Linked DNA regions of Homo sapiens. The gene in region 7 interacts genetically with the main gene of each other region. Each region holds a gene or a part of one and is shown on either strand. Other genes may lie near its edges. The genes, in order: ZFC3H1, PROKR2, SRFBP1, TMEM132A, SERINC2, ZNF175 and HAPSTR1.

Region 1 (3,500 bases), on a different chromosome or scaffold from region 7:
GCCTAGTTCTTTGTCCTCCTGGATGATCCTGACATGGTGGGTAGCATGAACCAGCACATAATGGACTTCATCTTTCCTACCACTAGTTTCTAAAATTCATGAATGAAGGCTACTCTTGCTGAGGGCACCCTCTACCTTCCCACTGTCCTTTCAGACCCCCTAGTGGCTGACCCAACACAAAGGTCAGAAAGTCCTCAGAAGCCTCTCCTGGCACCTGGCAGTGAGTCAGGGCTGGTTAAATCTGGATGAGGATAGTGCAGCCTGGAGGGCTTTCCTCGGAGATCACTGCACTCACTAGGTCCACCCTCTCTCCCAGATACTAGGAAGGGAAAACATGCCAAGTCCATAAAACAATAGCACCATCAAGTGTCTGACTATTAAACATTCAAATGTTCATGGGGCAGAACACTGAGCATAGACATAGCCTCTCTTCTCTCTGCCACCTAATAACACAAATGTGACACAGCAGCCACATCTGCAGCGCTATGTAAAATGTTCCAAAGATTAGTGTATATTCAGATTATCTCATTTGGGACTCAAGTCAACCCCATATAAGGCATGTGGATAATAATGTATTGACTTGTGAGACAACTGGGATAAAGAAGAAATGTTAGATTTTCTCTGATTATATAGTTAGTGGGTAGGGTAGTAAGAGTAGTCTTTGAAACTGCTGTATTTCAGTGAGCCTAACAAGTCATTGAAGATAAAATACACAATTATTTTTATCTGCTACCAAGGAAGAAAAATGCTGAGATGCATCAATTGTAATTATTTCAAAATTAAAATGTGAAAAAATGTGCACCTTATTGACTAAATACACTAAGTAATTCTTCTCATTCCTAGTTTTATTTACTTTCAACACAGCTTATATGGTCCATGTCCTCAACTTTCTTTTGCTCCACAAGAAGGGAATAATGAAGTCACCACATCATTGTTTTCCTTTGGCTAGGGCACTTTGGCAGAATTTAAGGGAATTTTTTGTTTCATTATTTCTTAAAAAATATGCTTGTGTTTTTTTTTGTTTGTTTTTTTAAAGTATGTTTCTGTCTTTTCCTGCTTTATTCCCTGTTCTCATCATTAGGTTAAAAGTGGAACAAAGTGAGAGTTTTGAGGGACTAATTATTAGTTTAAAGTGAATGGCTGACTTTATGATGATATGACAATTTTAAATGGCTGGAGGTGGACTCATGAGGGGTTTAAAGATTTTATCAGAGGTTGATAAAATCTAATTTGCACTCCACCTAGATGTATTTCTTCAAACATAACATAAACTTAATATATTCCTGATGAAGTATTTCTGTTATTAAACTCTTAACAAAAAATTTTTTTACAGCTCCTTCACCAGTGCAACCGCCATTTTTCTCTGAATGTTCATTGGGGTATTTTTCTCCAGCACCATCTCTTTCTTTGCCTCCACCACCTCAGGTTTCTGTAAGTCAGAATTGATTTCTAAGAAAATTATTTTGTCTTGTCTTTTCTAATTTGTTTTTAAAAACGAATGGTTAGGTTTGAAGAGGGCTTAAAAAATCAGAATTGCTTACCAAGAATTAATAGCAATGAAATACGTAGAATAAACAGTTGATTATACCAGCAAGCTATCCATTTGGTAGATTTTTTTCATAGCTAATTTTTAATTTCATGTTGACTTTTCGGTACCTATCATGTTTCCTTCTTCACTTTACTCTCAGATAGTAGCTACTCAGAAAATTTATTCAAAAACAGAAGTTATCTACTGTTTTGGACTGTCTCTTTTTTAGGGAATTGGAATTTACATGCATTAGGATGCTTCTAAAAATTAATACTCTCCTTTCTCCTCTTTTCATAAAAATGGTTATTTTTAACTTGAAAATCCAGCAAAAGAAAAGCATTTTCTATGAAGTTAATTTCTTTTCCCCCCCATCTCCAGTCCTCCCACTAAAAATAAAACAAAAAAATAAAAACAATAAAAGGAAAAGGAAAAAAAGGAAGTAGAGGAATCACACATTAAAAGTTTTGACATTATTTTTAGATTGAGAGGACCTAGAGATCAAATTGAGTATCTCTCAGTAGGTGTAAGAGGGAACTTTTCCGTTTCAGGAAAGACGTCTAGTGTCTTTCTAGAACATATATGGTGAGGGGAATATTAGAGCCGATAGTGAGAGAGAAAACAGCACTTTCTTCGTTGTAATGTTTTCTTTTTGGGAATGAATAAATGAACTAAATGCCAAGGGAAATAGTGGAAGATCTTTGATGCAAATACATATCCAAATTTAGGGATTTGTGTAAAATTAGTTTCCTTTATAGATATTCTTTAAGAAGCCATTTTAAGAGAGTAGTGGTGATTCTTCTTGATACTTAATTAATGATTAAAGTACTCTGGACTATTATTCACAGAATCCCTTGGTTTCTAATTTTTATTTTTTACTGAAATATTATGTCTTGGGTTTCAGTACCTCTACTTGCTTTCAGGTAGTCATCTAGAAGGAAGGACCCTGTATAGTTTGATATCTATATCTTCTAGAATGCTAAATGGATATAAGAATTGGAACAGAGAAGTTTCTATAATTTTCCTTGAAGTTAATAAATGTTTCAAATATTGTTGATTTTTTTTAAAATTGTAAAAATAACACTTTTTCGTGGTTGGCTATTGATTTCTGGTTTGTTTTGAGGTTAACATATACTTAGCTTACTATATTTACAGCTAAAATAATAATGTAAAGTTTATTTTTTTCTAGTTTAATATTGCTGCAGAGAGAAGCATTTGAGTTGATAAAATTTGCGTTGTAATTCTTTCTTTTTTTAAAAAATAGTCTCTGCCACCTTTGAGCCAGCCTTATGTGGAAGGCTTGTGTGTTTCTCTTGAACCTCTACCTCCTCTACCACCATTACCACCTCTCCCACCTGAAGATCCAGAACAGCCTCCAAAACCACCTTTTGCAGATGAGGAAGAGGAGGAAGAAATGCTGCTTCGAGAAGAACTACTTAAATCTCTAGCAAATAAAAGAGCTTTTAAGCCAGAGGTAATTTAGGTACCTAAACCTCTAGGTGGTGCTCTTGAGCTTAGCTTTACGGTAGTCCTACTTTTTTCTGGTTACTTGGGCATCATTGGGCTTTTCAGCAAAGTGGGGATAATTCTAACATGCTCAAGATTTTTAAAGGTGGCAGAAATTTATTTTTATTTAGGAATGTTTAATGTCTTTCTCTTCCTTATGTAGGAAACATCCAGTAATAGTGACCCACCTTCACCTCCAGTTCTGAACAATTCACATCCTGTGCCAAGAAGCAATCTATCAATAGTCAGTATTAACACAGTGTCTCAGCCTAGGATACAGAATCCAAAGTTTCACAGAGGACCCCGTCTTCCACGAACTGTGATCTCGGTAAAAACAAAAATTTAATGCTACTTTTATTCAAACAGTTATGATAAATTTCTATGAAGTTTAGCTGTCCTGTTTTCTACCCCTTGGTTTATTTATATACACACATATATTCACATATAAATACAAATTTTTAAAATTTAT
Region 2 (4,137 bases), on a different chromosome or scaffold from region 7:
AAGACAACTCCCCGTAGCACTCTGTTGCACTGTTTTCTAAGCACCCACTGTCTCCCTGGGGACCACATGTCCATCCCCAGAAAAAGCTCCTACTCTGCTGAGGGTGGTCAGGACTTGGAGTTACTACAGCGACATCTGTGGGTCGCCAGATCTGTGTGGAAGCAACCATGCCTTAACTCATCTCAGAGGATTCCATGAAAGCACCAGCGGGCAGATGGTCCCAGGGGTCTGTTTGCCCCCATTGAATAGGGCAGGCATGGTCCATGAGCGAAGAAGCCTCTAGCTGAAGTTGGTAAGTATGCACTATTGCAAAGAATGTGTCCAGGGCGTACAACTGGCCACCCCATCATCTCCCCCACTCAAGCAACAGAGCTTTTTTGCCTCCATATCTGGAAGTTGCCCTGAGCATGTAGAACACCTGCCCAATCGCAGCCCCTCCCCAGGAGGAAAGCAAACAGCTGGCTCTCTTGCCTTTGATCATGCGGGAGAGATGCTAAGAGGTAGGGAGAGTGGGGTCAGGTTCCAGGTAAGGTGGGAAAAGCAGAATCACAGAATGTCACAACCTGAAGGAGTTTGAAGTTCATTTATCCAAAAATTTTTAATTGGCAGCCTTGTGGACTGTGTTCAGTCTGAGACAGGTTCTCTTTGACCAAAACAAGATTTTTGCTTTAACGAACCCAAAGACTATTTTTAAAGTTCTCGAATTCCAGATTCTCTTGAAAACAATGGGAAGCTCTGACAAAGTGGAGTCCATGTTCCCACCTGCCAATAATCCGCTGGCTGGGGTTTAACGATGGGGAACACCTTTTTAGACCTTCAGGGTCCTGCCACAGGTTCAATCCTGTATGCCCAGAGCTTCCTGGGCACCAGTCATTTGAATGGGCAGTTCCTGTGTTTAACCAGGAAGGTCGTGGGAGGATTTCGAACCTGTCAGAAGCAAAGTGAAGGGCTCCAGACTCTCCGGACAGATGGGCTGAGGCACTCCTGGGATTGTCTTTATACGGCCATGGAATCTGATAGTGGTGGTCATCGCAAAGTTTGGGTGAGGACTTCAGGGGCTTTGAGCAGAGCAAACTGTCCCCATCCCCAGCTTCCTCCTGGGGGCCTCCTCCTTCACCGCCATCTCCAAAGGCCCACACCGCACTCGTCGGAGCCGGGCTTTCCTTGAAAGGGTCACCTTCTAGTGGGCGCGGACGCTGGCACTGGGCACCTCCGGAAGACAGGACTCTCCCCTCCTGCGCGCGCGACCCGGGTGCGGTGCCACGACTGGCGGCAGAGGGCGGTGCTCACTGTTCCCAAGCGCACGGTAGAAACCCGGCTACTGTGTGGTCCGATTCAGACGGGATGCGAAGGCGCTGAAATCCGTGCGAGAGGCTGCCCCCGCTGCCGGGGACTCGCGTCAGCGCGGCCGGAGCTACGGTGCCCGCGCCCTGGACGCACCAGCCCGAGAGCACGCGGTGGGGTGGGGGAGCTGGGCATCCACCCTTGGCCTGGACTAGGAGGCAGGCGGGGACCCCGGGGCGGAGTCCAGCGCGGGGCGGGGCGCACAGGTCCGAGACGCTGGAAAGAGCTGTGGGGCCGGAGCGCCAACTCCAGCTGGAACCCAGAGACCCTGACACGCCGGAGGAGCCCGCCGGGGCGAGGAAAAAAGAGGGACATCCCCCACGCAGCGGCTCTGCAAGTGCAAGTCCGGGTCCTCGAGGTGAAAACCGAGCGGCCCGCCTGCGCCCAACCACACTGTGACTCTCGATCCGGCTTCCGGAGCAGCAGAGCGCACAGAAAGGAGGCGCCGAGACAGGTAAGGGCTTAGATCCCTGCAGTCCCGGGACTCAGTCGGTGCGGTGGGGGAGTCGCTAGGACAAGGGCCTCTGACGCCCACTTTTTTCTCGGGCATTCCGGCTGCTTTGCCTCCCGCCACTCTCGAGATATGCGTCGGGGCTGGCTCCAAGCAGGCGAGTTGGTTTCAGGAGATCCCCTCTGGGCCCTCTAGGACCGGGTAGGGTACGGTAAGCGGAGTCTGTGGTGTGCGGGCGCGGGCAGAGGGAGCCAGCGGGTAGCTGAGCTCGCGGACGAGCTCCAAATTGCAGGGGAGGGTGCAGGTAGAGGGGCACCTTCCTGAAAGGTGAGCAGGAAACAGCAAGCGTCCGTGGGGAAATTCCCGCGCACCGCATCCTCCACCCACCCGCCGTTTTCTTCCAGCCAGGAGGCACCGCAGCCTTTGCTTCTAGAGCCTGAATTTCTGACTTGATTCCTGTCTTTGCCAGGATGTCGCCTCTAGACGCCGACAGTGCGGCCGCGTTGATGGGGCGGGAAGGGGGCTGCTGGAACGGGTCGCTCCCGGGCGGGGAGTGCAATCTACGAAAATGCGGCTGGGACCTGTCCCAGCCCGGGCGCGCGCCCTCTTGTCTTGGGTTAGGGGGCTGGAAAGCCGAGGAGGGGTAGGACTCCCCATTCTTGGTCCCACGCTGAGCAGAGGCTGCGGGGATTGGGGTGTCGCATGAGACGGAGGGGCGACCTGGAGAGAAGACACCTCCGGGTGTGGACGCCACTGGGATTTGCATCTCGCCTCTTGGAGGTTTTCACCTTGGGAAAGCAGCTGGCGGGCGCACCCCAGGTTAGGGTGTCTTTTGCTGGCGCGCAGTTCCTGTCCCTCGGCGTTCTCCTCCCCTCGCAGGAGTGGACCAAATGCATTGTTCAGCTGGGTCATCTCCTTGCTACCCAGCATCCCGCGGCGCCCACATGTGGAGTCGTTTCCAGGTGTGCTGAGAGGCGAGGGGAAGGCCACTCACAGCTGGACAGCCAGGGCCCCTTTCTATAGGTGTTGGGATCTGGGCTCTTTTTCCAGCCCCTCGGTGAAGCCTTGTACCCTGGGGTGCCCTATCTCCTGCGGGCTGAGGGCTTCAGAGACTATTTTCCCTATTTTGAGACCTTGGTGACAGGACATGGTGCCTTTCAGGCAGGGTTGACTCTGGGTGGAGAACTAGGGCCAAGTGAAGGAGGTCAGAGAGCAGATCCAAAGTTGGAGTAGGGTGGGAAGGGCGGCAGAGGATTTCTTTCTGGAGCTGGTTCCCACAGAACGGGGAGCAGCAGGGGAATTCCCCTCCCCCACCCCACCACCACCTCCTCCACCTACAGCGCCCTGGTCATGCACTCAACAGATGTCTGTCTAGCCCCCACTATGCACCAGGCACTGGACTGGGCAGCAGGAATTTGGTTTACAGGAAGATTAGGACTCAGAGAGCATAAATCACTGGCCCAGGGTGACTCAGTCTGTCCATGTGAAAGTGAACTTGGTGATTTCCAAGTCTATGGCTTGGTCAGTACAGAAGGAGTGGTGTCCTGCTTTGGAGAGAAGACCCCGCAGCATCCTGGCCCTCCTGCTTCATTGTCCCTGGCCAACAGGTGCCACAACGTTGTGACAGCTGTAGGAGCCTGGCCAGCTCATGGGAGCATCCTTGGAAATGTTCCAGAAGCCCCTGTGGGAGCTGATGTGTTGGGGGCTGGAGGATGTGACTGGGCAGACAAAGAGGCCCTGGCCCCTGGGCAAAGGGCAAAGGTGCACATTCTTCTTGAGAGTTCTGGACAGTCTGATCCATCCTATGCTGTCCTTCCTGACAGCTGGGCAGCCACGGAGGGTTTCCCAACTTACAGATCTCAGGTCTCCTCTCCCCGCATCCCGGGTAGTTCCATCTGGTTAGGCAGTGGGTCTGGTTGGCCTATACTTGGGGAACTCAGGGAATGTGACCAGATGTTCTCCTGCATGTTGCCCACTGGTTGTGCCTCCTTCCAGGATCCAGGACGGTGAGTCAACTCTCCCCAAGGATGTGGGCAGGGTGCTAGGCTCACTGACCCTGAAAGAGCAGAAGGTCTGGACCCTCACCCCTCGCACCTCCCTCACACCACTTTTCTTGCAGACATCACCATGGCAGCCCAGAATGGAAACACCAGTTTCACACCCAACTTTAATCCACCCCAAGACCATGCCTCCTCCCTCTCCTTTAACTTCAGTTATGGTGATTATGACCTCCCTATGGATGAGGATGAGGACATGACCAAGACCCGGACCTTCTTCGCAGCCAAGATCGTCATTGGCATTGCACTGGCAGGCATCATGCTGGTCTGCGGCATCGGTAACTT
Region 3 (3,500 bases), on a different chromosome or scaffold from region 7:
TATTTTATTCACCAAATGTTACTTTTCAGGTTTTATCCATGTAATACCTACAGATCTTTTGCATTGATTTAAAATACTACATTGCTATATGCTTTATTTATATACGTTATTTTCTCTCTCATGCTACATTTTGTTAAAATGATGCAATGAATAATCTTGTGTGTAGCCTTTTCCTATTGTTGAGAATGTGTCTTCTGAATAGATTCCTAGAAGTAGGACTTTTGTTAAAGTACAGCATGGTTTCCCCCAAAGGAGTAAATCAGTTTGCATTTCTACCAGCAGTGTATTTGTCTGTTTCCTCCAACTTCATACAAAGAATTTGTTGTCGTAGTTTTTTTGTATTTACTAATCTGATAGGTAATTAATGAATAAGCAGAAGTATTAGTATTCTTAGAAACACTTTCTTAACACTGCAAGTTCCCCTGGAACAATACTAGCTCCTAGAATAACTATTTTCTAATAACTATAGATTTTTGTTACAGGCTAACTCAAAAACATGGTAAAGTTGGTGAATTTTCAGAGGCTAACTGGTTGGCCAACTATCACATAGCCAGCCAAAAGTCAATTCAAGTAGCATTTAATTTTGTCTTTGGACCAAAGTCTCCTGTCTGCTTTGCATATCAGAAACTTGCCGTCATTGTCACCCCAGAAATAGAGCTCATTCTCTAAAAAGCAAATTCATGTTAAACCTAAATGTATAAGAGATTGTGTGAATGAGAAAGCTAGTTTATTAAAAAACGTGTCTAATATGCGTAATAAATGCTCACATTGTAAAACACATTCTTTTCCTGTATACTGACCATCAGCTGCTTGGTATGTAGAAATACAGAAAGGGGTTTTAGTTGCATGATTCATGTTGAGCTGTGATGCATCTGTTCCCATAATTGAGTTATTCCAGAACAGATTAGATTTCTCAAGTCTCTGAGCTGGGGAACCCTTTCTTTGGAATTTCCTTGAGCTGGACACTGCCAACTTTTGCCTCTCTGTGGTTTCCTTTCCTGTGTTTATGTTGACTCTTCTGAGTCATCTCACATGGTCTTTTCTCAAATAGCTATATTAGACTTCCACTTTATTTATAGTATTTTTATACTGTCTATGCAAGAGATGCCCTATGTTTAGATTTTGCCAGGTTAACTTTAAAGGCTTCTGTATGTCTAATTTCTAGGCGATACTTCACTGTCAGTACATATATATTCGCTGGGTATGTAAGTCTTAATTCTTTTTCTTCAGACCTTATAGATTGTCTTAAATGCATTCTCTTGCTGTTTGGAAGACCCTTGGCTTGGCTTAATCAGTCTTGTTGGTGATGGCCTCAGATTTTCCCTTCAATTTCTGTCTTCAGACCCCTTCCTTCTACTTGTCTTTCATTTTCTTTCTTCTGTGTCAGCATATTTTATTTACATTTCTATGCCTCTGTTTTCTCTGTGCTCACACTATTCCTCTGTTCTTTCCGTCCCAAACAATAATCATACTGTTTTTACAATTCTAACAATGATAGTTCTTGCTTTTGGTTAGAGTTTTGCCAAAATGTACTGCCATTAAGCAGTGCACTTGGACTTCTGGCAGTATTGGTGTGTTAGGCCTGTTCATTGACTTCTGGGTTGTCAGCCAACTTTACAATTCCTGGGTGACAAATAAATTGGCAGCCTTTTAAATCCTAACTTAAAGGCTATATTTGTCATCAGTTTTGCAAAAATCTAAGTGCTTGGGGAAACCTAAGTCTTAAGTATATGAGGTATTCCTTTTGCTTTTAGAATTCCCTTATCCATTCATGGCAAACATAGTATTTCTTAAATTGGAATTTTAAAATTGGAGACGAGCTTTGTTATGATTGGAATGTAACCAAGGACCAACTCTACCCACTGCAGTTTATTAGTTTAGTTAACAGTGGTTAGCAAATGGTATATTATCATCTCATGCACCTGCAAAGTTCAGCAATTAGAAACATTTGTTAATATATTTTAATGTGCAGTTCATCGCTTGCTATTAGTTTATTTTATGAATAACTTAACTTTAAAAAATGTATCATGACACTGTATAATTCTGTTTATGCAACGTGGCCGTTCTTTTTTTTTTTCCTTAAGCCTTGTCTGTGTGCCTTTTCATTTATGCAAAGTATGATTTTTTTTTCTAAATGGGTCTTTGAAACAAATTCCTAAGAGGTTAACTTATCTAGCAGGAAAGAAACCTGATTACTGTGCATTTTTAAAATATATTATGCATTTGAAACAGTGAATAGACAGTGTGTATTGCTACATTTCTGGTCATTTATTTAACCAATATTTATTGGACACATACTGTGTGCCATGCACTATGTTAGGTGTTAAGATGCAGTGTTGAATAAAACCAGATACTTGATCAACTTCACAGAATTTATAACCTACTGGGGAAAGACACATTAAAAATAATCAGATTAAAAGTAAAGTATTAAGTTACCAATTAAAGGTACTTGTGACCCTCTCAGGGAAGCCAGAAAAGACTTCACAGAAATGACAATTGGTCCAAAATCAGGATGAATAGATGTTAACAAGTTGACATGGGAAAAAAGAACATTCTGACCAGTGGAAATGGTAGGTGTAAAGGCTTTGTAGTAGACGTGAGCATGGTGAGGACAGGGGACTGAAAGGCCAATGTGATTCTTCTGAGAGCAATTGGACACCGTTAAAGAGAGTTACTTAAAGGTACGACATTGGATATATACTTTAAAAAATTTTATTGCGATGGCATTGTGGATAACTGATTGGAGAGAGGCAAGAAGAACAGGTGTGGAGAAACCGGTTAACAGTAACTCAGCCAAGATTGCAAAAAGGTCAAGATAGGGAAAAAAGTGGTACAATTTGAAAGATAATTAGGATTTAAGATTAATAGGACTTGGAGATTCATTGTGAAGGATTAAGAGAGCTACCTCTAAAGACCTTTAGGTGTATAACTAAAAGGATTGTTCCATTCTCTGAAATATGAAACCCCCCCTCCCCACAAAAGAAGGGAAGGGTTTTATTGGAGGTGAAGAACATGAATTTAGGTGTGAATTTGAGGTGATTTTGAGCGCACTCAGAAAGAAATGTCAAGCAGGAAGTTGCACATTTGGGCTTGAAGCTAAAAGGAGTGATCTCAGCTGAAGGTAAAATGTTTGACTCCTCTTTGTTTAGGTGGCAAATTAAATATGCACACATAAGATCTCTTAAGGCTAAACAATGTATTGTGAAAAGAAACACTGGCTTGGGACTGCCCCCTCAACTCTTAACATTTTATGACTGGGTAGAGGTGGATGAATTTTCAAAGAAGATCAAAATAGAGTGAGTAGAAAGGAAAGAAGAAAACTATCTTGGAAAACTAAGGGAAGAATGTTTGAAGAAAGAGAAAGTGGTCAAAAATGTCAAATTTCCATTGGATTTCAGGGGCTTTTTTGGAATTCATTGGTGTCCTTAGTGACATCTTTTAGTAGACTGATGAGGATGAAAATCAAACTGGATTTGTGTGGCATGCAGAAATAGAGATAC
Region 4 (3,500 bases), on a different chromosome or scaffold from region 7:
AGGGCCTGAGGTCTGCTGGGTACAAATTGGGAGCCTTCCCCAGCCCCGGCTGTGCTCCCCATATTCCAGAGGGGGAAACTGAGGCCCATAAAGGTTCTCTTCTGCCAAGCTGGGATCCCATCTTCCTAGATCTTCCCCTCCCAAGCTCCTCTTTTGTTAAGCCCTCTCATTCTCCCTCCAGGTGGTCCCCCCTCGAGTCACTGAGCCCCACCAACGGCCAGTCCCATGGGACGTGCGGGCCGTTTCAGTGGAAGCGGCTGTGACTCCAGCAGAGCCCTACGCCCGGGTTCTCTTCCACCTCAAAGGGCAGGATTGGCCACCAGGGTCTGGCAGCCTGCCCTGTGCCCGGCTCCATGCCACACACCCTGCCGGCACTGCTCACCAAGCCTGCCGCTTCCAGGTGAGTAGACAGGCCCCACCTAGGCTGGTCCTGCTGCAGCTGCATCAGCCAGGTGGTGGGCCCGCGGCAGAGAGGAAACCCCCACTCCTGGGAAGCGCGGGGGTTGTGGACCACCCGACTCCATTTCTGCCCCCACTAGCTTTCAGTGCTGTGAAAAGGTTATTTAGGGCCCCAGAGGGAGTTCAGTCCTTGGTGTGTGACTTTGAGTAAGTAACTTAATCTCTCTGAGATTCAGTTTCCTCATCTGAAGAATGGGGTGTTAAGAATTCCTACCCCATCTGGAGTTGGAGTAAGGAACAAGTGAGATGAATGTAAGGATAGCTTACGGCAGAGTAATCAATCAGCCAGTGTGTTTGCATTATTAGTAGTGTTACTTTTATAATTGCTATTTCCACTATTTTGGAGTCTAGCACAGGAATCCATGGGAGAGGCGTCTCTTGAGCTTTAGGATTCTGAGAAGAAGACTGGATTCTAGGCAGGATAGTCCTGGGCTTGGTTAGGGTAAGGCCCTGGGATTGGCTTACTTTGTAATGAGACCTATCCCAAGGGCTGAAGAGTGGTCTGCGGACATGCTCTGAAACCTAGACCTGGTTTGAAGCCCCAGCCAGGTTGCTGGTTTGCTGTGTCACTCAGGCTGTGTCTCCGGCCCATGCTGGGCCTCCCTTTCATGAGCCCCTCCAGCTCTGGGTTTCCTGCCATGGGTGCTGAGAATCCTGTTCCTCGCCCTGCACCCACCCCCATGCCAATTACTGCTGTCGTGTCTTCACAGCCATCCCTGGGCGCCTGCGTGGTGGAGCTGGAGCTTCCCTCGCACTGGTTCTCACAGGCCTCCACCACACGGGCCGAGCTGGCCTACACGCTTGAGCCTGCAGCTGAGGGCCCTGGGGGCTGTGGCTCCGGCGAGGAGAACGACCCTGGGGAGCAGGCCCTCCCAGTGGGGGGTGTGGAGCTGCGCCCAGCAGACCCCCCGCAGTACCAGGAGGTACCTCTGGACGAGGCTGTGACTCTGCGGGTGCCTGACATGCCAGTGCGGCCCGGCCAGCTCTTTAGTGCTACCCTCCTGCTTCGGCACAACTTCACAGCCAGCCTCCTGACCCTGCGGTGAGCACCAGGCCACGGGGATGGGTGAGGGTGGGAACCTCTGTGGGAAGACTAGGGACAGGTACCTGCTCCTCCTGGGGTCCTTGCTGGAATCCTTGACCTCTGCAAAACATGTGTCCACCAAACTAAACTCCTTCCAGGTAAAAAGCCATGACTGTGCTGGTAGGAGCCCACCATGGGCACAGCCCTGGAATTAGAGTCAGAAGTAGGAAGCTGCCCCTTCCCCTGGCACCTCCCTGAGATTCCTTTGTCCAATGGGGCTAACGGTCCACCTTCAGGGCAGCTGCAAGTCTCCAGGGAGGGGAACCCGCAAAGGGCTTAGAGACTGCAGTACCTAAGTGTGAGCTCTTGCTCCAGTGCTCCAGAGAGGGATATTTGCCCCAATCACGTTCACCTACATGCTGTCCCTCCTTGCCACCCTCGCCGTAGGAGTCTAGCCTTTGGACAGAGCTTGCTCTTCCCCATAGGAAGGCCCTGATTCTTTGTGTCCTTTTCCGTAATAAGTTCCCCCAAAGCAGCCCCCACCCACCTACCCAGTTCACCCGGCAAGGGCTTGCAGAGTATGACTTGCTTCTGGAGTCCAGCGCAGGAATCCATGGGAGAGGCATCTCTTAGGCTTTAAGATTCTGAGAAGCCTGAGTTCTAGGCAGGATAGTCCTGGGCTTGGTTAGGGTGAGGCACTGGGACTTGCTCACTTTGTAATGATATCTTTCCTGAGGATCGAAGAGCGGTCTGTGGACATGCTTTGAAACCTAGACCTAGTTTCAAGCCCTGCCTGGGTTTGTGCATGTCCCGTCTCTGTGTCTCCCCATCTCCTACGCCCTCCTATGCTCACTCTTATTAAGCAGATCTTTCCTAGACACTTACAGCCTGCCAAGCCCTGTGTCTTCACTCTGCAGATCCAAACACGAGCAAGGGCCAGTCCCTATCTGGCAGAAAGGGGCCCCAGTGGTAGGGAAGGGAGCTGGATGGGCATGAATTGGATTAGAAGGCATGTGGGTGTGTAAGCACTGAGGGAGGTTCAAAGTGCGGTGGGAGCTCAGGTGAGTGGGTGCAGTAAGGGGGAAATTCATCCCACCACTGGAAAAGCTTTCTAAAGGAAATGGTCTGTGAGTTGTTGGAGGCTTAAAGCATCAGCAGGTAAAGTAAGAAAGGGCAGAGCAGGCTGAAGGCACAGACTGGGCAAAGGCTTGGAGTCACGAATGGGTGCCGTGTGTGTGGGAAACTTGTGTGTAGCTGAAGCAGAGAGTGCATGGAGAGATGTCACAACCGAAGTTAAGGCTGGACCAGACCCTGGAGGGCCCCCAAATGCCCGGCTAAGCTTTGACCTTATGGGCAGTGGGGAGGCGTAAGTGGTCTTTGGGTGGGGGAGAGCTGTAAGGTGTGAGCTGCACTGAGGCGGGGTCCTTCTGGGTTGGAGGATGGTGAAGAGGAGATTCAGACTGGAGCCAGGGAGGTCAGATGGCTTTGGCTCCTTGTCTTTCCCCTTCAATCCAGCCCACAGTTCAGCATGCACCTTGCCAAACTGAGCCTATACTCTCTTCCCCAGGATCAAGGTGAAGAAGGGGCTGCATGTGACAGCCGCCCGCCCAGCCCAGCCCACACTCTGGACTGCCAAGCTGGACCGCTTCAAGGGCTCCAGGCACCACACCACCCTCATCACCTGCCACCGTGCTGGGCTCACAGAGCCAGATTCCAGGTGGGCAGTTTCCCTCCACCCAGGGGGCAAAGGAGGGAGGGCTGGTTATAGAGTGCAGTTGAGCAGATTTGGAGGCTGCCATGCTGCCTCTAGATCCCCAGGTGAGCAGACCCAAGGACAGATTTTTTCAAGGAAGCAGCACAAAGCAGGCATAATCCATTCCTTCATTCATTCATTCGGCCACTATCTTCCCAGCCCCAGCCATGTGCCAGGCATAGCAAGTGTCTGTGAGTCTTATTCTAAGAGATGCCAACCAATCCTGTGCCCCAGGTAGAGCCCTCATAGCCACTACTCCATCCC
Region 5 (3,500 bases), on a different chromosome or scaffold from region 7:
GGACCACAGGCATGCACCACCACACCCAGCTAATTTTTGTATTTTTTGGTAGATACAGGGTTTTCTCATGTTGGCCAGGCTGGTCTTGAACTCCTGGGCTCAAGGGATCCTCCCACCTTGGCCTCCCAAAGTGCTGGGATTATAGGCATGAGCCACCATGCCTGGCCATTAGGGGAAAATTGAAAATAACAAAACGCCCATCAATACATCATGGTATTCCATAAAACGGATTTCTCTGCTGAATGGGGCAAATATGTAGGTAACACTTAACTTGGGTACATTTCATTGTATACAAATAATACTTCAATTAAGTTAAATTTACAAATATAAAAATAAAGATTTTTATATAAAGAAAAAACTTAAATAAGCTTTAGGTTTTGTGAGCCTATTGGAGTCTCAAGAAACTACAAAAAACCTAAATGTCTAACACCTGGGGACAGCCGTGGCCCTTTCACTCCATGGAATGCTACAGAGCCAGAAAGATGAATTCCCTGGCTACAGAGCCACATGGAATAATGCTCATGATGCAGTGTGAAAGGAAGGCAGACTGGAAAGCTGTTCCCACACTACGATTACAACCACTCCCCTCTTCCTGCAGATGCACTCAAGGGCAGCAACAGAAAAGCCCCAGAACACTTACAGTGGCTGAATCTTAGTACCAGCCCAGGTTCTCAGAATGGAGAACTCAGAATTTAAGAAGCCCCAGGCCTCAGAGCCTTACAGCTGCAAGGTTCCTTGGCATTCAACCAATCCATTCTCTTTCCAATGAAGAACCACCCAGAAAGCATCTGGCCATCCTCTGCTGCTTGCACACTGCCAATGACAAGGAGCTCACTACCTCCCAAGGCAAGGCAGACAGCTCTGGAGCCATGAGTCGTTTGGCATTATGTGAACAGGCTGTCACTGAGTCATTCACATTGTCTCCTGGTTGTCCTCAGAGCCAGGGACAGAAGTTCTTAGAACCACTCATAGGGTGTTGGGTGGGTAAGGGAGGCAGCTGAGGGCTGGATGAATTTTTCTATTTAAAACAAACTGGCTGTCTGGGCGTGGTGGTTCATGCCTGTAATCCCAGCACTTTGAGAAGCCAACACAGGCAGATTACCTGAGATCAGGAGTTTGAGACCATCCTGCCAACATGGTGAAACCCCGTCTCTACAAAAAATACAAAAATTAGCCAGGCATGGTGGCAGGCATTTGTAATTCCAGCTACTCAGGAGGTTGAGGCAGCAGACTCGCTTGAACCCGGGAGGCAGAAGTTGCAGTGAGCTGAATCGCGCCAATACACTCCAGCCTGGGTGACAGAGCATGAGTTCGTCTCAAAATTTAATAAAATAAAATAAAATAAAGTGGCCCTCCACTTCTGGATATATATCCAAAAGAAATGAAGCAGGGACTCACATATTTACACACCCATGTTCATAGCAGAATTATTCACAGTAGTCATAAGGTGAAAACAAGCTAAATGTCCATTGGTGGACGAGATGAATGGATAAACAAAATGTGGTATATCCATATCCATACAATAGAATATTATTTGTTCTTAAAAAGGAATGAGGCCAGGTGCGGAGGCTCATGCCTGTAACCCCTGCACTTTGGGAGGCCAAGGCGGGCGGATCACCTGAGGTCAGGGGTTCGAGACCAGCCTGGCCAACATGGTGAAACCCTATCTCTACTAAAAATACAAAAAAATTAGCTGGGCATGGTGGTGTGTGCCTATAGTCCCAGCTACGCGGGAGGCTGAGGCAAGAGAATTGCTTGAACCCGGGAGGTGGAAGTTGCAATGAGCCGAGATTGTGCCATTGCACTCCAGCCTGGGCAACAGAGCAGGACTCTGTCTCAAAAAAAAAAAAAAAAAAAAAAGAATGAAATTTTGACACATGCTATAACATGGATGAACCCTCAGGGCATTATGCTAAGTGAAATAAGCCAGACACCAAAGAACAAATATTGTATGACTCCACTTAGATGGAGAGAGTAGCCAAACTCATAGAGAAAAGCAGTGAATTGGTGGTTACGAGGGGCTGGGGAGTTACTGTTTAGTGGGAGTTTCAGTCTGGGAAGATGAAAAAGTTCTGGAGAAGGATGGTGGTGATGGTTGCATAACAGTGTCAATGTACTTAATGCTACACTTAAAAATTGTTAAAATGGTACATTTTATGTTATGCATCTTTTACCTCAATTTTTTTAAAAGGGAGGGGGCAGGGAGTTTTCAAAGAAGAGCAGGAAGAGGCGAGAAGGGTATTCCCAGCAAAGAGAATGACACATGCAGAGCTACAGGGACACTGTATTTTCAGGGCAGCTGAAAGGGTGAGAAAAGCTACAGAGGTCACGGAAGTGGTGGTCAATGTCCCTGTATGCCATGCCAGGGAGTCTGGACTTCACCCTGAAAGCAATGGGGAATGATTGCGAAAGAAGAGGAATGACAGCAGATTTGCATTTTAGAAATATCACTTTGATCACAAAAAGACAGGTCATGGGGTAGTGTGTGGTATCTTTGGGGGAAGGGAGGAGAGTCAGGGGCTGTTGTCAGTAATCCAGATGAGGGCTGACAGTAAGAAGATGTTCTGGAGTTACCGTGTGCCTTAGTTGGCACTACTCCTTCTGACAATGCCATTCGTTTGGGATTAATTTTTATTAGGGTTGTATTTATTAGATCTCCATTTTAATATACATGTCTTCTAAAATAAATTACAGGCTGGGTGTGGTGGCTCATGCCTGTAATCCCAGCACTTTGGGAGGCCGAGGCCAGTGGATAACTTGAGATCAGGAGTTCGAGACCAGCCTGGCCAACATGGTGAAACCCCGTCTCTATTAAAAACACAAAAATTAGCCAGGCATGGTGGCGCACGCCTGTAATCCCAGCTACTCGGGAGGCTGAGGCAGGAGAATCACTTGAACCTGGAGGCAGAGGTTGCAGTGAGCCAGAATGGTGCCACTGCACTCCAGTCTGGACAACAGAGCAAGACTTCATCTCAAAAAAATAAAGTAAAATAAAATAAAATGAAATAACATACAAACTCCTTGAAGACTAAAATAAAAGGTTAAAAGAGTAAATTTTTTAACATGTATTTCGTCACAGTTTAAAAAATGCAAAACTGGCCCAGGCAAGCATGCACCTTGCCGCCTTCATGAACAACTCCGTAACTGGCTGAGCCGCCCCAGGGCTAGTCAAAACACAGCAGAGAAGAGGTCAGCCGGAAATGTCCCAAGGTGCACTTACTTCCCCCATGCAGTGCCAAGAATGCAGGTCCTAATGCTGGCTCTGCCACAGCTTGTAATCTGACCTCAGGCAAGTCTCTCCTCCCCTCCATGGGACTCAGTTTCCTCATCTGTAAAATGATCTCCTGGGGTAGGAGAGTACAGGGGCTCCGAGCCCAGGCTCTATAGTTAGGCAGCCCTGGGTCTCACTGGCTTCAGCACTTCCTTGCATGTAGTCTTGAGTCATGTACTACTGTGGGGTGTTTATGGACCGGCCACTGCACACCAGCTTGGTGCTAAAT
Region 6 (4,110 bases), on a different chromosome or scaffold from region 7:
GCCGTAGGGTAAATCCTATGACACAGTAAAGAATAGTCTCAGATTTATAAGTGGAGAAAATTCAAAAGTTCTAAGTCCGGGGAATTTCTTAGTAACTCAAACAAAATGTCACACTTTCTCACATAATAAAGATAAGTGTTTTTATTGATTTTACACTATTTGCTTACAGTAAATATATAATTGATGTTTTAAAATAAAAGCAGGTTTCATGCTTCATGTAACAAAGTTAGGTTCAGATACTAATGTGAAAACTCAACTATTCCTGGGAAACCATGTTCAAAAAAATGCTTCATTGGCTAAGCAGTCTTATTTTATTATTCAAATGGACTAAAAATGAGGTATGAAGTAATTAAAAGTAATATGGTGGCTTTAAGTGCAGAGATGGGGTGGCAGAAGCTGTGAACACAGAATGTAAAATCGGTAACTACAAAATGGCACAAACTACGAAAGCAATATATTTAAATTACTATTTTTTAAAAAAGAAGGATCATTTCAGATCTTCACCTTCAGATCCTCACTCAGCCCTGCCTCCTATTTCCCATAATCAGCCATTTTTTTAATTTTATGATTGCTATTACTCACCTTCTAGAATATATTTTTGTTTATTTGATTGAACAACCTCTTCCTGAAAATTCTGCCCAGTTGGGCTGGCTGACATTGATCTCAGTAATTGTGTTTTTTTCCTTTAACTTGATTATATTTTTTTCATTCGCCTCTCTTTAAATGAAGTGTCCCAAGAGCCCTAAATTCTCTCTTCAGGTGGTCGCTTGGTAGGTTACTTCATCAATAGGTTCATCCAGGTATAGAGAGCAATGGTGTAAGGATAACAAAGATACAATTTCTCAGAAAGATAACATTTTCAAAAGTGCTATTAAAGACAGTGAGTTGTTCAGCAATTCAGGAAAAAAAAGTCTTTAAATCAGAGGGAAAAATATAGAGAAAAAGTATTTTTCAGAATACATGTCAGTTTCTCCTAGAAATATATATACACAAGTATTGAATAGGTCCCCTGCCAATGTAGGACCCAAGACTTTTACTCTGTGACATTCCATTTGTCCTTGGCTGTACGGAATAAAAGCCCTTTGACGATGGCGGCCTCCAATATCATAATCCGTATGGGTGCGGCCATGCCGTCCTCCCTACCAAGTTTCTGAAGTTGAATGAACCGCGGAATAAAGGTACGCCGTTATACGCCATGATAACTGTTGGCGGAGCGTAGCTTCAAAAGTGTTAGTGGGCATGCGCGCGGTTCAACAGCGCCTACGGAAATCCTAACGGGAATGTAACCCAAACCGGAAGTGGCCTAGAGCGACCATTTAGCTTCTGTTGTTAAGTGGATCTAAGCCTATGTCGCTTACTGGACGCTGAAGTGATTGGGAATATTAGCAGTGGGGGTTCTGTAGGGTCAGGAAGGGGCGGCTGGCTTTGGGGGAGTGATGAGGGGCTTGTTGGGGGTGGGGGTGCGTGATAAAGGGATTTCTCGGCTGAAGACGAGGCTGTGAGGTGAGTGACGGGCTTGTTTTGGCTGAGCGATGAGGGGTTTCTGGGGTGGGTGATGGGTGCTGTGGGGTAAGTGGCGTTTGCTAATTTTAGTTGGATAATTAGCCTGTTAATTTTCCCTCTTTTCTTGCTTATTTTCTGCTTGTAGTATTTTTGTGACTTAAATTCCAAGTGTACTTTAATATCGGATTTTATATTGGTCCACGAAACTTGCTAACTTGAGGACAGTGAACGTGCATCTTAAGAGCGCCTTTGCGGATGGTGCTGGAGGACGTTCAGGGAAGGGATTCACTGTCCGTGGGACTAGGGGAGTCAGTGATTGATTGGCAGCCAAGAGCTTCAGAGGTTGGAGGACTTTGAGGATCACACTGTAACACTCTCAGGGGACCAGTGATGGGCAACCTATAGGAATCAGTAGAGTGGGGTTGCCAGGGGTAGCCTATGGCAGCCAGTTGACTGGAGGCGTAGGGGGTCAATGATGGGGATTTGTGAGGGTGAATGCATTGCTTTCTAGGCAGTGAGTGTTGGGGTCCTTCAGGGATTGGTGGGTGGGTCAGTGTTGGCCTCTTCTTGGGTCCCTTGGACATGGTAAGGATCAGTAATTGACAGTTGAGCACATCGATGATGGTTTCCTATTGGGGCATTTCATTTGGACCCCTATGTTGGGGATTATTTGTCGTTTTATGGAAACCAGAAAATTGTGCTCGCTGGGAAACATTTCTTGGCTATCAGGGCAGTAAAGATTTCAGAAGCCTGTGCCATGTCAGTGACTGGGAGGCATTTTGGAACTTTCTGGCAGCCCTGTAGTACACTCATTGGGGATTTCTGAAAGTCAGTCCTGTCAGTGATTGCATTCAGGTGCGGTGGGGGCAACTTATTGTGGACAGGCAAGAAATGGTAACTGGAGGCCCTGATGCATGTCTGCAAATTTTCTGTGTCAAGATGGGGATTGGGACAGTGATTTTAAGTTTTAGCTCTAGTCAGAAGAGGCTGGTCTGTGTGTGGTGTATTATGGACGGGGACTGAAAAGTCCAGAAGCTCAGAATAGGTACACCAGACAGAGCCACCTCCCGGCCTGAGTTCTATGAAGGCAACAGAAAGAGGAAATGGTGTTTCTGGAAGCTGGCCACGTATGGGTACATGAGATAGTGGAGACAGTGTACAGTTTAGAACAAGGCAGATGTGGGGCTGATTCCCTGTTTTTCCATTTACAGACTGAGTAACCTTCAGGCAAATTATGTAACAGCACACAGCCTCATTATCCTCATCCTCAAAATGGGTATGATAATGCCCATGATATTTAGCTGACAATTAAATTGACAACTTTCTTTTTTTAATTCATATTTATCACGTGCCAGGCAGGCACTGAGGACTTGACAAGCTTCATCTTGGTTAAGTTTCCCAACATCTGTGATAAATACCTGCATTTTCATTTTGGAAACTACAACTAAAGTAATATTTTCATATTCTCACAGTGAAAATGTGGCAAAGCTGCAATGAATTCACCATTTAGTCCAGACTCAGTCTTTATTTTTAACCCTGACTAATAACTAGAGTTGGGCTTTCTGAACTTTGTCTACTCCAATGTCTGACACAGTGACTTCACCTCAGTGCCCTCAGGAAATATTTGTGGAGTGAATGTTGAATGAGTGACCATGTACTCATTGCTTTTCCAAGGCTTCTGCAGAACCCCCAGGTCAGGCCACATCATTGAGGCTGCAGGATCTCTCTTCATAGCCCAGTACGACTCTCCGCCGTGTCCCTGGTTGGAAAATCCAAACACCTATCCAGCTTCTGGCTCCTGGGAAAAGTGGAGTTGTCAGCAAGAGAGACCGAGAGTAGAAGCCCAGAGTGGAGATGCCTGCTGATGTGAATTTATCCCAGAAGCCTCAGGTCCTGGGTCCAGAGAAGCAGGATGGATCTTGCGAGGTAAACAGGGGCAGCCCTGGGGATAGTTCTCCAGAACGTGAGGGCAGACACAGGATGCAGCAGGTCTGGGCTCCCTGCTCCTGAGTCAGTCTTGAGCCTCCTGTCAAGCGAGGACCACAGAGGCTGATGTTTCCACATTCATAGGCTATCTGTGTTCTAGAGGAAACCATGAACTGGCTGATAAAAGAGGATAGTAGAGGGTTGGCCTTGGGTCAAGAAAGAAGAAACTGTAGTCCCTGGTCTGATCAGAAGCCCCAGTCATAGGATGGAAAAGCTGACTCTTTCCTGCTAAGCACTGGTTCTGCTCCTTCATCCACCACTGGGTCTTTGAAAAATTTCAAGTGGTCCCCCCCACCAAATTCCTTGCTTGGTCCATGGGGTTTGGCCCGTTTTTCCTCTGTTCTCATAAGGTGCGGCAAAATCTCCTTCCTTTGTAATTTAAATAGTCACAGGGAGGTAGAGTGAGAAGAGGCTTTTAAGGACCATGTGAAGAGGCTTTTAAACACTTTTTCCTGTTTAAAAAGGTGAACAAAAAATGCTGGAAAACAGTGTTTCCAGATTGCCCACAGATAGAAATAGTCAGGATTTGGTAACAAGAAATCAGAATTCTTGGTATAGTCAAGATTTCCTGAAATCCTAAATTATTCTGTGTATCTCTTGATGCTTTATTTACAAGTCTTT
Region 7 (3,500 bases):
TTATTGTTTTCCTGAACTTTGGGAGTTTTAAGCAATGATACAGTTGAAGGGACTGTTTATAATTTTCACATGTTTAAGTTGTGAGGCTTTAAAACTTAAATATAAGGCTTTGTCTAGGAAGAAAATGATCTTTACCTTCAATAAATTTATAATGTAGCACTAATCCAGTATAGATTGGAGACTGAATGCATTCTTACTCTTAGGGTTCATACCTCTAATTCATGTGGTTAAGACAGTGTTGTGGTGAAGTAATAGGGCCCCTTGAAAGAATCTACAGAAACATAAATTATACTGAGTTGTGCTGTACTGGTTTGTGAGAACATCAGTGTATTAAGGAGAATGGTAGTTTAATTTGAATATTTAAAGAAAGTAATTTGAATGGTTCTAGTACTAGGGCCATTATTAACTAGTAACATAGATTAGTGACTTCAACTGGGTGTCCTTATTATCTGATTTGTCTGAAGTGAAAACTGTTAAGGTGCTCTTTTAAAATGTATTTGGAAACACCATAGTTAGGGTAAATACAATGTCACAATTCACTCTTGCATATTATTTGCTTAGCCAAATTTATGAATTCTAAGTTAGGCCAAATTGAAGGTTTTGGAGTTTTACATTGTGGGTGAGTCTAAATTCATGCGTTTGGCAAGCACAAGGACATGGGAAAAGAATCTGGTATTTTGAGGCAGGCTTGAGTTTATAATGAAAGCAAACTCAGTTCCTCTTCATGTCCTATGTATTTAAGAGAGGACAGTTTTCCCTCAGTTTTTTTCCCCTTCCTTACCCCTACCCCCATCAAATACAGCCCAACCAAATAACTGTGTTCTTAATTTAAAGGAAAATGGCAGACTTGACACCTGCTGAATATTTCGTGTAGACAGAGTATGACAATGAATGAGATCCCCAGTCATTGCCCTTGTAAGCCTGGGAACCCAGTTTAGTGGGAGAGACTAATGTAAACAGCTTTAATCAAAAGTATATCAATTGGCCGGGTGCTGTGGCTCACACCTATAATGCCGGCACTTTGGGAGGCCAAGGTGGGTGGATCACTTGAGGTCAGGAGTTTGAGACCACCCTGGCCAACATGGTGAAACCCTCTCCCTATTTAAAGAAAAAAAAGTAAGGCATATCAATTTATGGTTATCAAATAGGTTTTTTTTTTTTTTTTTGAGACTGAGTGTCGCTCTATAGCCCAGGCTGGAGTGTAGTGCTCACTGCGACTTCCGCCTCCTGGGTTCAAATGATTCTCGTGCCTCAGTCTCCCGAGTAGCTGGGATTGTAGGCGCCTGCCACCACGCCCAGCTAATTTTTGTATTTGTAGTAGAGATGGGGTTTCATCATGTTGGCGAAGCTGGTCTTGAACACCTGACCTCAAGTGATCTGCCTTAGCCTCACTGCTTGCCCCTAAGTGGTGGGATTGCAGGTGTGAGCCACTGTGCTGGCCTCAAATAGTTTTTATCAAAGCTACTTCAATTAGTGGTTAGCAAGGCTTAAAGACTAATTCAGTGCTTTATTTTGACACTTGTTCGCAACATGTTGCTTTTTTTCCTGTGTCCTATGGGACCTAGTCATCTGTATGTTAGATTCACAGAGGAATTAAAGAGATAAACATGCATGTGCTAAATTGATTTCTGTCTTGCTTTGTTATCCTATAATAATGTTATAAAATAACATTATTATAAATTTCCCAAGAGTTGAATTAATACCAACAACTGGTAACTCGTTTTTATGTAAACAGCATACTTGAGACCAGAAATCTTCTGGATCACTTTGTGGATCTCTGCCTGCCATTCTCATTGGTCCTCTGTTCATCCCTTTTCTAGAGCTTCTCCTTACCTTGGCTTCTCTTCTGCCACATTGGCCTGCCTGACCTGTCCTCAGGCCCTGTCACTGCCCTAGATTACGTTTCCCATGTCTTCACTTCCAAATCTGGACCTCTCGTTTAGACCTTCTCTCCTGACTGCCAGATGGCATGTCCCACTGTCCTCCGGTGTACATCTCCAAATTGTCCCACAGGCATTTATCTCAGATGAAGTTTCAGGTTGGACTCATTCTTCTGCCCCAACAGCAGAATGACTCATTGAGCCATTGAGCCATTCAGCACATTCTCTATATGGCAGATTCGGTGCTGTCTCTGGAAATACATAAACATAGAGCGATTCCTTTTTCTGTTGAGGCAAAATATGGATTTGGTTAATTTCTATTCACGTCATGAATGTGGTATGTGGAAGGTCTTCTGAGAGCAGAAAGGGATGTTTCACAGCACAGCCCGGCTGTGTGGTGCTCAGGGCAGGCCCTCTGGAGGAGGTGAGCCTGGGCTCTTGGCCTAATGTTTCAGCTCTCACTTTCCAGTCCTGAGCTGTTGTTGCCAGTCCATCTTTCATGAGACCATTGGAGTGATCTTTCTGGTCTTGTCACTTCATGGTTTAAAGTTTCCCTGGGCCTACACAGTGAAGTCCAAATTCAGCATGGTATTACAAGACCCTTATGATCCAGTCTTAACCATTGGTTAGGTATCCTACCCATACTGTTTATCTCTTGAATACCTCTATGCTCTTTGACAAGTCCAGCCCCTACGTGTTCATACCTCACTTCTGTGACACAGCCTTGCTTCAGGGCTCCCAATCTCTGTAGCCTCCCTGAACTGTGCATTTGCTCTGCTGCTTGATTTGTTTCTGTGACTGTTCCATTCTCCTCGGGACACATAGCAGGGACCTTGTCTTGGTCCTTTTTTTTTTGGCTTTAACAGAACATAGCAAAGAACCTGACATAGGTGTAGTCTGAGTTTACCACTGGGGTTATCACAGAGGTCTGCTAAGTGAATACAACACAGTGGGGACCCAGAACCTCTAGAAAGGGTTGAGGATTACAATCCCCAGATAGCTACAATCAGGGAATAATGTAACCTGTTTGCCTAGGGTGCTACATGGTAATCTTGAATTAGAACAACTGAGACTTCCATGGGACCTTAGGGTGATAACCATTAAACCTACTCTTTCAGTGTTTACTTTGTAAAAGCATCACACTAAGGAGGTTGTCATTTAATCCTCACACCTACCCTGGGTTATTAACACTGTTGATGAAGAAAGCCTTACTTGGCTAAGATATGGAGCAGGTTAGTAAGTGGTAGAATAGATACTCCAGTCCTGTCTCCAAAATGCAAATTTTTTTTTAATTAAAAAAATTTCTAATTTTCAATATATTTATTTTTGATTTTTTATTTTCTGTAGAGTTGGAGTTTCGCCATGTTGTCCAGGCTGGTCTCGAACTCATGGGTGCAAGCCATACCCCAACCTCGACCTTCCGAAGTGTTGGGAATACTGGCATGAGCCATGATGCCTGGCCTCAAAATGCATACCCTTAACCACTATGCTCTCACATTTTTAGATGTGGGATTTCTGTCTACGACGTCGCCCCCACTAAGACCTAGGGCTTAGGTGTCGAGGTGGGAAAGATCTTGAGGCTTTTCTTCTCAAAATTAATCAGAAACGATGTGAATTTTA

What was found.
Region 1: changes in HAPSTR1 (region 7) and ZFC3H1 together harm fitness less than expected from each alone (positive genetic interaction), as found in Homo sapiens cells (one large-scale study listed by BioGRID).
Region 2: changes in HAPSTR1 (region 7) and PROKR2 together harm fitness less than expected from each alone (positive genetic interaction), as found in Homo sapiens cells (one large-scale study listed by BioGRID).
Region 3: changes in HAPSTR1 (region 7) and SRFBP1 together harm fitness more than expected from each alone (negative genetic interaction), as found in Homo sapiens cells (one large-scale study listed by BioGRID).
Region 4: changes in HAPSTR1 (region 7) and TMEM132A together harm fitness more than expected from each alone (negative genetic interaction), as found in Homo sapiens cells (one large-scale study listed by BioGRID).
Region 5: changes in HAPSTR1 (region 7) and SERINC2 together harm fitness less than expected from each alone (positive genetic interaction), as found in Homo sapiens cells (one large-scale study listed by BioGRID).
Region 6: changes in HAPSTR1 (region 7) and ZNF175 together harm fitness less than expected from each alone (positive genetic interaction), as found in Homo sapiens cells (one large-scale study listed by BioGRID).

The regions. Positions count from the first base shown.
Region 1 is NC_000012.12:71,636,349-71,639,848, reverse strand, and holds part of ZFC3H1 (zinc finger C3H1 domain-containing protein), read left to right. Parts: intron 1-365; exon of another isoform or gene 366-494; intron 495-1,333; coding exon 1,334-1,431; intron 1,432-2,789; coding exon 2,790-2,999; intron 3,000-3,194; coding exon 3,195-3,359; intron 3,360-3,500. UniProt on the Homo sapiens protein: Subunit of the trimeric poly(A) tail exosome targeting (PAXT) complex, a complex that directs a subset of long and polyadenylated poly(A) RNAs for exosomal degradation. The RNA exosome is fundamental for the degradation of RNA in eukaryotic nuclei.
Region 2 is NC_000020.11:5,314,155-5,318,291, reverse strand, and holds the start of PROKR2 (prokineticin receptor 2), read left to right. Parts: upstream 1-1,337; 5' UTR 1,338-1,798; intron 1,799-3,914; 5' UTR 3,915-3,922; coding exon 3,923-4,137. UniProt on the Homo sapiens protein: Receptor for prokineticin 2. Exclusively coupled to the G(q) subclass of heteromeric G proteins. Activation leads to mobilization of calcium, stimulation of phosphoinositide turnover and activation of p44/p42 mitogen-activated protein kinase.
Region 3 is NC_000005.10:121,968,475-121,971,974, forward strand, and holds part of SRFBP1 (serum response factor-binding protein 1), read left to right. Parts: intron 1-3,500. UniProt on the Homo sapiens protein: May be involved in regulating transcriptional activation of cardiac genes during the aging process. May play a role in biosynthesis and/or processing of SLC2A4 in adipose cells.
Region 4 is NC_000011.10:60,927,460-60,930,959, forward strand, and holds part of TMEM132A (transmembrane protein 132A isoform b precursor), read left to right. Parts: intron 1-181; coding exon 182-400; intron 401-1,169; coding exon 1,170-1,501; intron 1,502-3,050; coding exon 3,051-3,200; intron 3,201-3,500. UniProt on the Homo sapiens protein: May play a role in embryonic and postnatal development of the brain. Increased resistance to cell death induced by serum starvation in cultured cells. Regulates cAMP-induced GFAP gene expression via STAT3 phosphorylation.
Region 5 is NC_000001.11:31,416,213-31,419,712, reverse strand, and holds part of SERINC2 (serine incorporator 2), read right to left. Parts: intron 1-3,500. UniProt on the Homo sapiens protein: Non-ATP-dependent, non-specific lipid transporter for phosphatidylserine, phosphatidylcholine, and phosphatidylethanolamine. Functions as a scramblase that flips lipids in both directions across the membrane.
Region 6 is NC_000019.10:51,569,973-51,574,082, forward strand, and holds the start of ZNF175 (zinc finger protein 175), read left to right. Parts: upstream 1-1,310; 5' UTR 1,311-1,503; intron 1,504-3,177; 5' UTR 3,178-3,357; coding exon 3,358-3,429; exon of another isoform or gene 3,430-4,110.
Region 7 is NC_000016.10:9,105,144-9,108,643, forward strand, and holds part of HAPSTR1 (HUWE1-associated protein modifying stress responses 1), read left to right. Parts: exon of another isoform or gene 1-1,621; intron 1,622-3,227; coding exon of another isoform or gene 3,228-3,361; exon of another isoform or gene 3,362-3,500. UniProt on the Homo sapiens protein: Acts as a central player within a network of stress response pathways promoting cellular adaptability. The E3 ligase HUWE1 assists HAPSTR1 in controlling stress signaling and in turn, HUWE1 feeds back to promote the degradation of HAPSTR1.